Homo sapiens: one gene and its partner. The protein of the gene in region 1 purifies or fractionates together with the protein of each later gene. This does not show direct contact. Each region holds a gene or a part of one and is shown on either strand. Other genes may lie near its edges.

Region 1 (6,041 bases):
ACCTGTGTTGATTCATAATGATCTAGTTTCTTCCTTTTTACCTGCAAAATAGGATGACAGCATGTGGCCACACCACATTCCATTTTCCCACTCCTCTGTTCGTGGACGGGGCCTAGTGTCTCTGAGTCATGTTTACTGAGGCAGCGCTGAGTGCATCCTTCCGGAACAGGCAAGCCCGTTTGCCTGCCACCTTGTTGACTCCGCAGTCCCTTACTGGGCCTGTGCATCGAGCCAAGCACTATGCTAGACTCTGAATCTGAGTCTGAGGCCCCAGTTCTGGCCCTGTCCTGGAAGGAAGGGAGTAAGAAAAGAAAGAGCAGGGATCCTGAGAGCAGCCAAGCGATCCTGAGAGCAGCCAAGCGGGATGCTGTTGAGATGGGCCCGGAGTAGCCACAACCCTGGAACAGGGCTAGGCAGAGTCCTAAGGCCCAGTGCTGCTTGAGATTCTTAATAACGCTTTTGGTTTTTTCTTGGGTTGTAGGAAAATTCCTTTTGAAAATTCTAGCCTGTCTCAGCTCTGCTGAGGGAAGATGGAAACAGTATTTTTTGTTTTGTTCTGTTTTCCCCACATCTCACTCAGGAGAAGAAAAGTAGTGCATTCCCTGGAGGCTCCCAGGGTGGCACCGATAAGAGCATGTGCAGAGGTTCCCTCGCCCCAGCTAGCGCTCTGCCTTCCCTGCTTCTCAGCTCATCACTGACCTCGCCCATTGCCCTGTCAGTTGAGATCCCACACACACGCGTGTGTGCACAGATGCACGCAAATAGATGCACAGATTCCAGATGTCTGTGGAGCGGTGGTCTCCCAACCTCCCCCATGGAGTTCAAACCCTCACTGTCAGCTTCTGGTTGTGAGACCATCCCCCCTTCCCCAGGCCTCACCAGCCTGGAACTGCCTTTCAGCTTGAAACTGCTTGTACTACTTGCCTTGTTGGGGATAAGGGTTGGAGCAGGTGTTTAGAGGAATTGTTTTGTTTTGTTTTTAAAAGACAGGGTTGGCCGGGCGTGGTGGCTCACGCCTGTAATCCCAGCACTTTGGGAGGCCAAGGTGGGCGGATCACAAGGTCAGGAGTTCGAGACCAGCCTGACCAACATGGTGAAACCCCGTCTCTATTAAAATACAAAAAATTAGCCGGGCGTGAGGAGACTGAAGCAGAGAATCGCTTGAACCTGGGAGGCAGAGGTTGCAGTGAGCCAAGATCACACCACTGCACTCCAGCCTGGGGACAGAGCTATACTCCATCTCAAAAAAACACATAAGCCAAAAAATAAAAGACAGGGTCTCACTCTGTCGCCCAGGCTGGAGTGCAGTGGTGTGATCATAGCTCACTGCAGCCTCAGCCTCCTGGAGTCAAGTGATCCTCCCATCTAAGCTTTTTGAGTAGCTGGGACTGTAGGTATGCACCACCATGCCCAGCTAATTTTTTATTTTTTGTAGAGATAGGGTCCCACTATGTTGCCCAGGTTGGTTTTGACCTCCTGGCCTCAAGCAGTCCTCCCACCTTGGCCTCCCAAAAGTGCTGGGATTACAGGTGTGAGCCATCACGTCTGGCTGAGGAATACAATCTTTTTTTTTTTTTGAGATAGCGTCGCACTGTCACCCAGGCTAGAGTTCAATGGCACAATCTCGGCTCACTGCAACCTCCGCCTCCGGGTTGAAGCAATTCTCCCACCTCAGCCTCCCGAGTAGCTGGGACTGCAGGCATGCATCACCACGCCTGGCTAATTTTTGTATTTTTAGTAGAGACGGGGTTTCACCACGTTGGCCAGACTGCTCTTGAACTCCTGACCTTAAGTGATCCACCCGTCTCGGCCTCCCAAAGTGCTGGGATTACAGGCACGAACCACCGCGCCCAGCTGGAATACAGTCTTAAAGTAATGATTTATGAGGAAAAACACCTGATAAGATAAAAACTCACTTCGAGTATTTCTCTTAGCCAGGGTTCAATGATTCCAGGCAAGGGCCAGGCACAGTGACGGCTCAGGGCTGTAAACCCAGCACTTTGGGAGGCCGAGGCAGGCGGATCACTTGAGCCCAGGAGTTCGAGACCAACCTAGGCAACATAGTGAAACCCTGTCTGTACACAAAATAAAAAAATCATCTGGGCACGGTGGCCCACACTGTAGTCCCGGCTACTTGGGAGGCTGCAGTGAGCCATTATTGCACTAGTGTACTCCAGCCTGGGGGACACAGCAAGACCCTGTCTCAAAAAAAAAAGATTCCAGGCTGTTCTGCAGAGAGAGATTTGTCCTTAGCTTCTCCACTGCTGGTGGCATCTGGAGTCCCAGGTGCTGCTCTTCCTGCGTGATCTGCACAGTGTCCTGGGAAAGAGCAGGTGCAGATGCAGATGCCACATGTAGGACACCCCCTTCCACCCCTGCCAACCTTGGCCTCCCTCCCTCCCTCCCTACCTAGGACCTCTTCTCAGCTCTCATCAAGGGCCCCACTCGAACCCCCTACGAGGATGGCCTCTACTTGTTTGACATCCAGCTCCCCAACATCTACCCAGCCGTGCCCCCCCACTTCTGCTACCTCTCCCAATGCAGTGGCCGCCTGAACCCCAACCTGTATGACAATGGGAAGGTGTGTGTCAGCCTCCTGGGCACCTGGATTGGAAAGGTGAGTATAGGGCCAGGCCCCCAGCCAAGAAGGAGGAAGAGCCACTGGTGGATAGGGGCCTGGGGAACAGAATTGATGGTGCCCTGTGTGTTTCAGGGGACAGAGAGGTGGACAAGCAAGTCCAGCCTTCTCCAGGTGCTCATCTCCATCCAAGGTACAGTTGGGCTGAAGCGGGGGTGCGGACAAGGGAGGGCCGGTGGAGGAAAGTGACTCTGATAGTCCCCCTGGCAGGTGGAGGGTAGGCCTGCATTGTGGGCCTCTCTCACCCACTGAGGGAAGGTGTCCCGCCCACACAGGTCTGATCCTGGTAAATGAACCATACTACAACGAAGCCGGCTTCGACAGTGACCGAGGCCTGCAGGAAGGCTATGAAAACAGTCGCTGTTACAATGAGATGGCGCTGATCCGCGTGGTGCAGTCCATGACCCAGCTGGTGCGGCGGCCCCCCGAGGTCTTTGAGCAGGAGATCAGGCAACACTTTAGCACTGGTGGCTGGCGGCTGGTGAACCGTATCGAGTCCTGGCTGGAAACCCATGCCCTGCTGGAGAAGGCCCAGGCACTGCCCAACGGGGTGCCCAAGGCCAGCAGCTCGCCAGAGCCCCCAGCTGTAGCCGAGCTGTCAGACTCCGGCCAACAAGAACCTGAGGATGGAGGGCCAGCCCCAGGAGAGGCCTCCCAGGGCTCAGACTCAGAGGGCGGTGCCCAGGGCCTGGCCTCAGCTAGCAGGGACCACACAGACCAGACTTCGGAGACCGCACCAGACGCATCGGTGCCACCCAGTGTGAAACCAAAGAAGCGGAGAAAGAGCTACCGGAGCTTCTTACCTGAGAAGAGTGGCTACCCTGACATCGGCTTCCCCCTCTTCCCACTTTCCAAGGGTTTCATCAAGAGCATCCGGGGTGTCCTGACGCAGTTCCGGGCTGCCCTGCTAGAGGCAGGCATGCCGGAGTGCACAGAGGACAAGTAGCTGCCAGGCACAGAGGAAAGAGCATCACCGTGGGAGAGGCCAGCCGCCGCCTGCTCACTCCCCCCCGGAATCACCCCTCTTCCCATGCCCCTCTGTCCCCACTGCAAACCCACTGCCCTCTTCTCCCCAAGGTGAGTTTGATGCTGAAGTGCAAGAAGTGTGTTGAGATGCTGCCGTTTCTATTTTGAAGCGAGCTTTCAACAGGCGGGTCCCCTGTGGCAAAGAAAATCGGAACCCTGTTGCCGATTTTCCATTTGTCACCCCAGCAGAATGTCCGGCACTTGCTCCCTTGCTGCCCCTTCTCAGGTCAGAGGCGGGTGTTCCAGGGCCTGCCGCGGGGCTCTCTGGGCCGGTTCCCTGCAGACCCGCAGGAGAGCACATGTGCCTTGCATGAAGTGTGGGTTGCGCCAACAATTCCCCTGGTCCCTTTCAACCTGTTTAGTTCAACTCAAGCCTCCCTGTGTCCCAGACCCTCCTGCTGCCACCACCACCCAGGTCCTCCCTAGTCCTCCAGCGTCAACACTATCCCTTGGGAGTTGTAGCTGCTGTCACTGACTCCCGGCTATACATGGCCTGTCGACCACGTTATAGCCCTCAGGCCTGTTGAACTTGCTCTCTAAGAGAGGTTGGGACCAGGCTAGGTTCCGGGTGACGCCCAGGAGAGGTGGTGGCCTTCACACATGCACATGGAGTTGAGGACCAGGGAGCTGCAGGGAAAGCAACAGCTATAGGTGCCTTGCTCTTCTGTCGGAGGCTGCTGGGGGCAAGAGCAGCTGCACAAGGCCAGGGCAAGTGCTAGGGCCCCTCCCCCATCACATGGTCACACTGGGACAGGCGTGCAGCTCACTGAACTCCAAGCGAGCCAGCCCTCTCTTGGACTAGAAGGCCTACTGTCAGCCCTTCGCTTACAAACTGCAGGCTCAATCCGAAGGGGACGGCCGGCGGGGGCTCTCCTAGTGCCCAGAGACAGGCCCAGAGGTTTACAAGTTTTCTAAGCTTTTGATAATGTGAAGCTCCAGGCCGAGAGGATGCTGTTGAGCACATTGCAGCTATGTAATTTTTGGTGTATGTATGTAATATTTAAGGTTGGAAAAAAAACTCAAAAGCAAAGATATTAACTCTTATTAGAAAAAAAGACAAAAAAAAAGCCAAAGCATGATGCGTCTTGTCAGCCTTAAGTGGGCTCCACACCTGTGCTGTGCTGTGACCGCCCAGCCAGCAGAGCTGCGGGAGGATGGAGCCGGACCACACACCGTGGCATTTGGAACCGAGTCGGTATCTTGTTTGAGAAACACCCGGAGTGACTGGTGGGGCTGTGCTTCCCAGTGCATTGTACATGTGGAGATGTGAATGCCTACTGCTTACGATATCTGTATAAAGTGCTGTGTGATTAAACTTTTTTTTACTTGCATTTTTTTTTTTTTTTTTTTTTGTGTTGGCTCATTAGCAAGACAAGGTGACACCATTAAACCTCCCTCTGCCATTCATCTGGGCTCCGTTGCCTTTGTGTCCCTCACACACACCCTTCCTGGGGAAGGAAAGACCTTGTTTGTTGCCAGGGAAGGCATGTGGCAGTGGGTCCTGGCTTTCCTGGCCAGGTGGGGGCCACTGTGAACAGCACCCCCACCCGCCCACACTGCCCTCTGCCTGCCAGACCTGCTTGCATGCCTTTTGTACTTCTTGTCCTGGAGCAGTCCTCTGGCCTCCTCCTGGCCGGTGGTGTGCCCCTCAGGAGCCAGCTTAGAGCAGCCTCCCAGCAGCTGTAGTCTCCAGAGACCTACAACTGACCAGTTCAGCTCCTTCCAGGTTCTGGGAGAGCCGACGTCATAGCACCTGGCGGTGGACAGGTGCCACAACTCCTGGACGCTAAGCCAAAATGGTTGCCCAGTTTAGACTTGGATGGATCCTTCCCTGCCACATTCTTTCCACTCCTGCCTGGCACTCCTCCACAGGGACAGGTAGGGAAAGGAGACAGCTGAGGGAGGCTGGGAGAACCCTAGAACCCTAGACCATTGTGGTGGATGACAGACTCCTTTTAAAAAGGTAAGATACCAGGTGTGGTGGCTCATGACTGTAATCCCAGCACTTTGGGAGGCAGAGGCGGGCAGATGACTTGAGGTCAGGGGTTTGGGATCAGCCTGGCCAACATGGTGAAACCCCATCTCTACTAAAACTACAAAAATTAGCTGGGCATGGTGGCATGCACCTGTAATCCCAGCTACTCAGGAGGCTGAGCACAAGAATCACTTGAACCCGGGAGGTAGAGGTTGCAGTGAGCCAAAAAAAAAAAAAAAAAAAAAAAGCAAGATATTGCCATTTTTTACTTCTGAGGTCTCCTGCTCCTTGCCAATTTTTTTGGGGGGGGGCGGGGGCGGTGGCCAGTGGTTTTATTGTTTTTGTTTTTGAGACATTCTCACTCTGTCTCACCCAGCCAGGCTGGGGTGCAATGGCGCGATC
Region 2 (5,116 bases), on another chromosome or scaffold:
CAATGCCCAGGATCTTGCCCCTCTTCCCACATGGACCAAAAGGCTCAAGCAACCATTACACCTCCTCTCCTATCACAGCCAGCTGGACAGTCCCACACTACCCCAGAGCAGGACCTTCCCTTTCCAACCACTAGTGACGGGACAAGAGATCAGCCCAAGACATCCAAGCACTGGGCTGGTAGGCAGCTGACCGTGCAGCTCAGTGCCACAGTTCAAGCTGGGGCCGCTGGACTGGCAAGGCCTTCACAGGAAGGGAAAACGGACTGGCCAGCAGGCACCACGAACACATTTCATGTGGGCCCTCTTCCCAACTTTGCTTGGTGTGATTATGATACAGTTATATATAAGCCCTAAATTAAAGGACTCTGTGTTCCTTGCAAATGGAAAGAATGCTTTCATCTAAGTGTTTTAAATCTGATTCCTGCCTGGGGAGTCGAGCAGTAGCCCACCAGGAGGAACTGGAGTTTGGTGAGAATCACAGAGCTGGGAGATGCCAGAGCTCCACAAAAGGAAATTTTATTTCTTGCCTTTAAACAAAATAAGATGCTCTCAGAGCTTTTTTTTTTTTTTTTTTTCCTCCCTGGAAAGGAAGTTTCATTATGTTGCCCAGGCAGGTCTCAAACTCCTGGCCTCAAATGATCCTCCCACCTCAGCCTCCCAAGGTGCTGGGATTACAGGTGTGAGCCACCACGCCCGGCCCAGAGAACTTTTTTTTTACTGCAGAAAACATTTTTATAACTTTAGAACTTTTCTAAAATACTACTTTGTCAGCTGAACAATATAGAAAAGTGCAGAGGCAAGTGCCTTTCCAGAACCGCGTGGTGACTTAGAAGCGGGGCTTGCGCTTGCGGCCGGTGTACTGGGTGTCAGGTCTGACTTCCCTGTGCAGAAAAGGAATAGGACAGTCTCAGAAAAAAAAGATCAAAGCAGCCCTGGACCCTTCAAATAAAGGGAAGCTCTTCATGGCAATAGTCATCCACCCCCCACCCACCCTGCCAGCTCCCAGGCTGGCACTCACCTGCCCTGGCGCCTGTGCCGCTCCTTCTTCTCCAGCACCCATGCCCGACTCTTCCTCACCATTCCCCGCCTCGACATCCTTAATGGGAACCTGTGGCGGAGACACAGCTATGAGCTGATGGACAGCTGATGGATGGGGCTGCCCGACTGGCCCCCATGTGAATCCATGGCAAGCTTACCTCCGAGTCTGGTGGCCTCGGATGCCCCTTCTCTCAAATGCTCCACCTTCCCTATAACACAATTCCCCGCTCTGGACACCCTCCTTCCTGATAACATCCATCCGGGCCACAGAGGTTGTTGGGTGGGCAGAGGAGGAGAGAGCTGGGCCGGGCATGGAGACCTAAACACCAGCGAGCAGTCTGTTCCCTCTTCGGGAAGCAGCTAAGCAGCAGTAAGCAGGCCGCTTTCTACCAATGCAATGACACATCATCACCTAGACTTCAAGAGCACAGTCGACAGTTCACAGCAGGAGCTTAGGGTCCCACAGCTTGGGGGCAGGAAGACAGGGATGGAAAGGAGGGTCTGAAAAGGAAGGACTGAGGGGTATGAGGGAAGAAGGAAAGAGGGCGGGGTAACCCCGAAGACCCCTGTGACCATCCGTAGAAACCAGAGACAGGGCAAGCCAAGGAGCTGCCATTCGGATGCCTGAGCCTGATGAGCCAGCACAAAGCAGGAGCAGCTGCAGAGCAGGGCTGGGGACACAGGAGGAGTCATCTCAAGATTCTACAAAGAGTACAAAGTGAGGGCAGAGTGGCGAACCAGGGGGCAAGAGGTGAGCCATGGGAGAAGCAGCAAGGGGGAAAGTCATCAATGGAGCTAAAGGAAGGAGGTGAAGACGGGGAGTGCCCCAAAGCACAGGTCCCAAGAGAAGTGGGGGCCCAGCCCTGCAGGAGGCACATGAGAGGCATGGGAGGGAGGCGGCCAGGAGGAAGGGAGGAACAGGCCAAAAAGAGAGCCTGGAGACTGATTAGGTAAAGACTTAAAAAACTTTTTCTTAATTCACCTGTTTATTTAAAATAAACAAGTGTCCTGAATGTGGTTAGACTGAGATGACAGTAACGGGAGAAGCTCCTCCCTGCCCTGTACCTCATCTGAGGAACTGGAAGTGAGAGCCTACAGAACGAGGGATGGCAAGGTACGTGCTGGGCACCCTCAACACACTGCCAAGATAGGTGGCACTACCCCTACTTTTTGAATAGCTGAGGAATGGATGCTCAGGTCATTCAACTTACCCACATTTACTTTTAGGACATGTCGTTTGAAGACACCAGTGTAAGGACAAGAAGGATCCTAAGACACATGGAGATAAGGCAATGTGTACTTCCCCTGGGAGGGAGGAGATGGGAGTGCTCCCTGGGAGCACGAGATGGGCGCCTCAGAGAAGAGGTCATCCAGAAGGGTCCCAGCTCCCCATGGGGAATGGACTAGGGAAACTAAGGGAAATGAGCAAAGACCCAAGGGGTCAGGCAGCATAAACCTATGGTGGACGTGAGGAACATGCATGGCTGTGCCCAGCTGTGGGCCTTCCAAACACATGCATTTTGGGCTCATTTTTCCTCTTAAATGTCTTAAAGGTCTTAAGACCTTTCCCTCATGTCAACTGGACCTCAGATATAACCTCCCTCTTCACTACCTTATAATCAATTATTCATTCAGAAAAATACTGAGCACTTTTTACTAACAAGACACTATTTTTAATGTCAGGGATATAATACCAGTCCTCACCAAGTTTTCACTCTAGCTGGAGATACAAATAATAACCAAGTCAACTGGTATGTGTATGACTTAGAGCAGTGAAGGGTGTTAAGGAAAATCAACATGAGCGGGGAGCACAACTGCAATGAAGGCACTAAAAGAGCAATGACAAGATACAACTTACATTTTAGAAAAAAAGAAAAAGACCAGTCTTGCTGCTATGCAGAAAATAATCTGAAAGAGGCAAAGACTGCAAAGGCAAGGAGACAACACAGGCAGCTGTTCAGCAATCCAGGCTAGGGGCAGTGCTGGATTAGGCTCGTTGGAAGCAGGGAGGGTCAGCACGGGGATACACACTGAGGGACGGACAGCAGGGCTCAATGACAGGCTGACAAGATGTGAAATGTAGGGAAAGACAGGAATGATCAAGAATGGTAAAGAATGGAGGATGAGGCCAGGCGCAGTGGCTCACACCTGTAATCCCAGCACTTTGGGAGGCCGAGGCGGGCGAATCACGAGGTCAGGAGTTTGAGAACAGCCTGGCCAACATGGTGAAACCCTGTCTCTACTAAAAACACAAAAAATTAGTTGGGCGGGCGCCTGCAATCCCAGCTACTCGGGAGGCTGACGCAAGAGAATCGCTGGAACCTGGGAGGCAGAGGTTGCAGTGAGCCGAGATCAAGCCACCGCACTCCAGCCTGGGGGGAAAGAGTGAGACTCCATCTCAAAAAAAAAAAAGAATGGAGGATGGCCAGGCATGGTGGCTCACATCAGTCATCCCAGAACTTTGGGAGGCCGAGACAGGGGGATTGCTTGAGGCCAGGAGTTCAAGATCAGCCTGAACAACATGGCAAGACCTCATCTCTACCAAAAACTTTAAAAATTAACCAGGCATGGTGGCATGCACCTGTAGTCTCAGCTACTTGGGAGGCTGAGGCAGGAGGATCATTTGAGCCCAGGAGTTCGAGGCTGCAGTGAGCTAAGATTCCACCACTGCACTCTAGCCTGGGTAACAGAGAGAGACTACCCATGGAAACTCCAGGTATAGACACTGAGGGGGCATTGGGAAACCCCAGGTGGCAAGAGACTGAAGATACACATTTGGGAATTAGGACCTTCCGGCTGGCATTTACAGCACCACAGGTAGAGAAGGGATCCAATCCAGGCTGGGCCCAGCACTCGAAGAGGAAGCAGCAGTGGAGTGAGGAGCAGCCAGGAAGGCTGAGGAAACCACGATGGTGGGTGGAAGGCCAAGTGAAGGAAGCGTCAAGGAGGGAGCGCACTGCTGTCTTTGACCCTACCGAGCAGGCACATTAAGGACATGAAAAAAAGTCACAAGTGACCAGATGTGGCTTGATGGAAATTGGTGGTGGAGTTGACAAGAACAATTTGTGATGAGACAGAATTGTCAGCCTGAGAAGTGGATTGAGAGAATGGTGGGAGGGGAAGAAGAGGCAGGTCTGAGTTCTGCTATGAAGGGAAGCAACAACGGGGTGGTTAGTTGTTGTTATGGGGTTAAGGAAGGAACTTTTCTAGAAAAGGAGAAATTGTGCAGCATGTCTGTGTGCCGACAGCAGTGACCCAGGAGAGTCAAGATGAGGATGCAGGAAGGAAGGGAGAGCCACAGCACCCAAGGGAGAGGGTCCCAGATGCAGGTGGAGGGCAGCATCAGAAAAGAAGGAGACAGCCTGCCAGGCGTGGCAAGGGGAAGGGGCATGTGTGGGCTCACAAAGGGAGTCCAGGCTGCATGGCTGCACCCAGACATCCAGGACCCCAAACCCCTAGCCCCAAACAGGCACAGTCCAAATGGGACCTGATGTTTCTACCGTCACCTTGGTGTCCCTGCTGCATGTGACCTGAGAGGCTTGGGTGAGGGCAGAGAGAAAGTCCATGTCTAACAAATGTGGCAGCCCCCGCTGCAGCCGGGGCAGGCTTCAGCAGTTGCTTTACCTCTCATTGGTGAACACAGACTCCCTGGGTTCAACTTCATCCTGATTTTCACTCAGCCCCTGCAGGAACCAAAGTGCACTCAGGTCACCCTGGAGAGTTCTCAAACCATCTGCCCCACTCCAGAAGCCCAGGCACCCAGGCCTGACCCTTCCGACAGGGACGAGGTCCAGTCCCACGAGAAGGAACTGACACGCCTTTCTGGGACCTGCAGAGCAGAGGTCTCTGCCTCCAGATTCCAGAGGATGTGAGCACTCCAGGGTCTGCACTCTGGGGCTGGGCCCTGCTTCCCCACCAGTGTTCTCCCAGCAGGCTCTGCAGGCTGAGCCCCACTGCCTGGAAGTCAAAAGACACAGGCCTGCCTGCAAACCCAGTGTCCCTCACCTCTGGTATAAAGGTCGAAGGCCCAGAAAACAAGCAGAGGTAGAATCTGAAAGGAGAAAGTGCAAAGTGAGGG

The links.
Region 2: the proteins of UBE2O (region 1) and BUD23 purify together in Homo sapiens (affinity purification with mass spectrometry; 7 studies listed by BioGRID and IntAct, with this or other methods). This does not show direct contact.

Annotation. Positions count from the first base shown.
Region 1 is NC_000017.11:76,388,486-76,394,526, reverse strand, and holds the end of UBE2O ((E3-independent) E2 ubiquitin-conjugating enzyme), read left to right. Parts: intron 1-2,413; coding exon 2,414-2,617; intron 2,618-2,713; coding exon 2,714-2,771; intron 2,772-2,913; coding exon 2,914-3,584; 3' UTR 3,585-5,071; downstream 5,072-6,041. UniProt on the Homo sapiens protein: E2/E3 hybrid ubiquitin-protein ligase that displays both E2 and E3 ligase activities and mediates monoubiquitination of target proteins. Negatively regulates TRAF6-mediated NF-kappa-B activation independently of its E2 activity.
Region 2 is NC_000007.14:73,693,597-73,698,712, reverse strand, and holds the end of BUD23 (18S rRNA (guanine-N(7))-methyltransferase), read right to left. Parts: intron 5,090-5,116; coding exon 5,044-5,089; intron 4,722-5,043; coding exon 4,663-4,721; intron 1,248-4,662; coding exon of another isoform or gene 1,197-1,247; intron 1,109-1,196; coding exon 1,019-1,108; intron 882-1,018; coding exon 827-881; 3' UTR 501-826; downstream 1-500.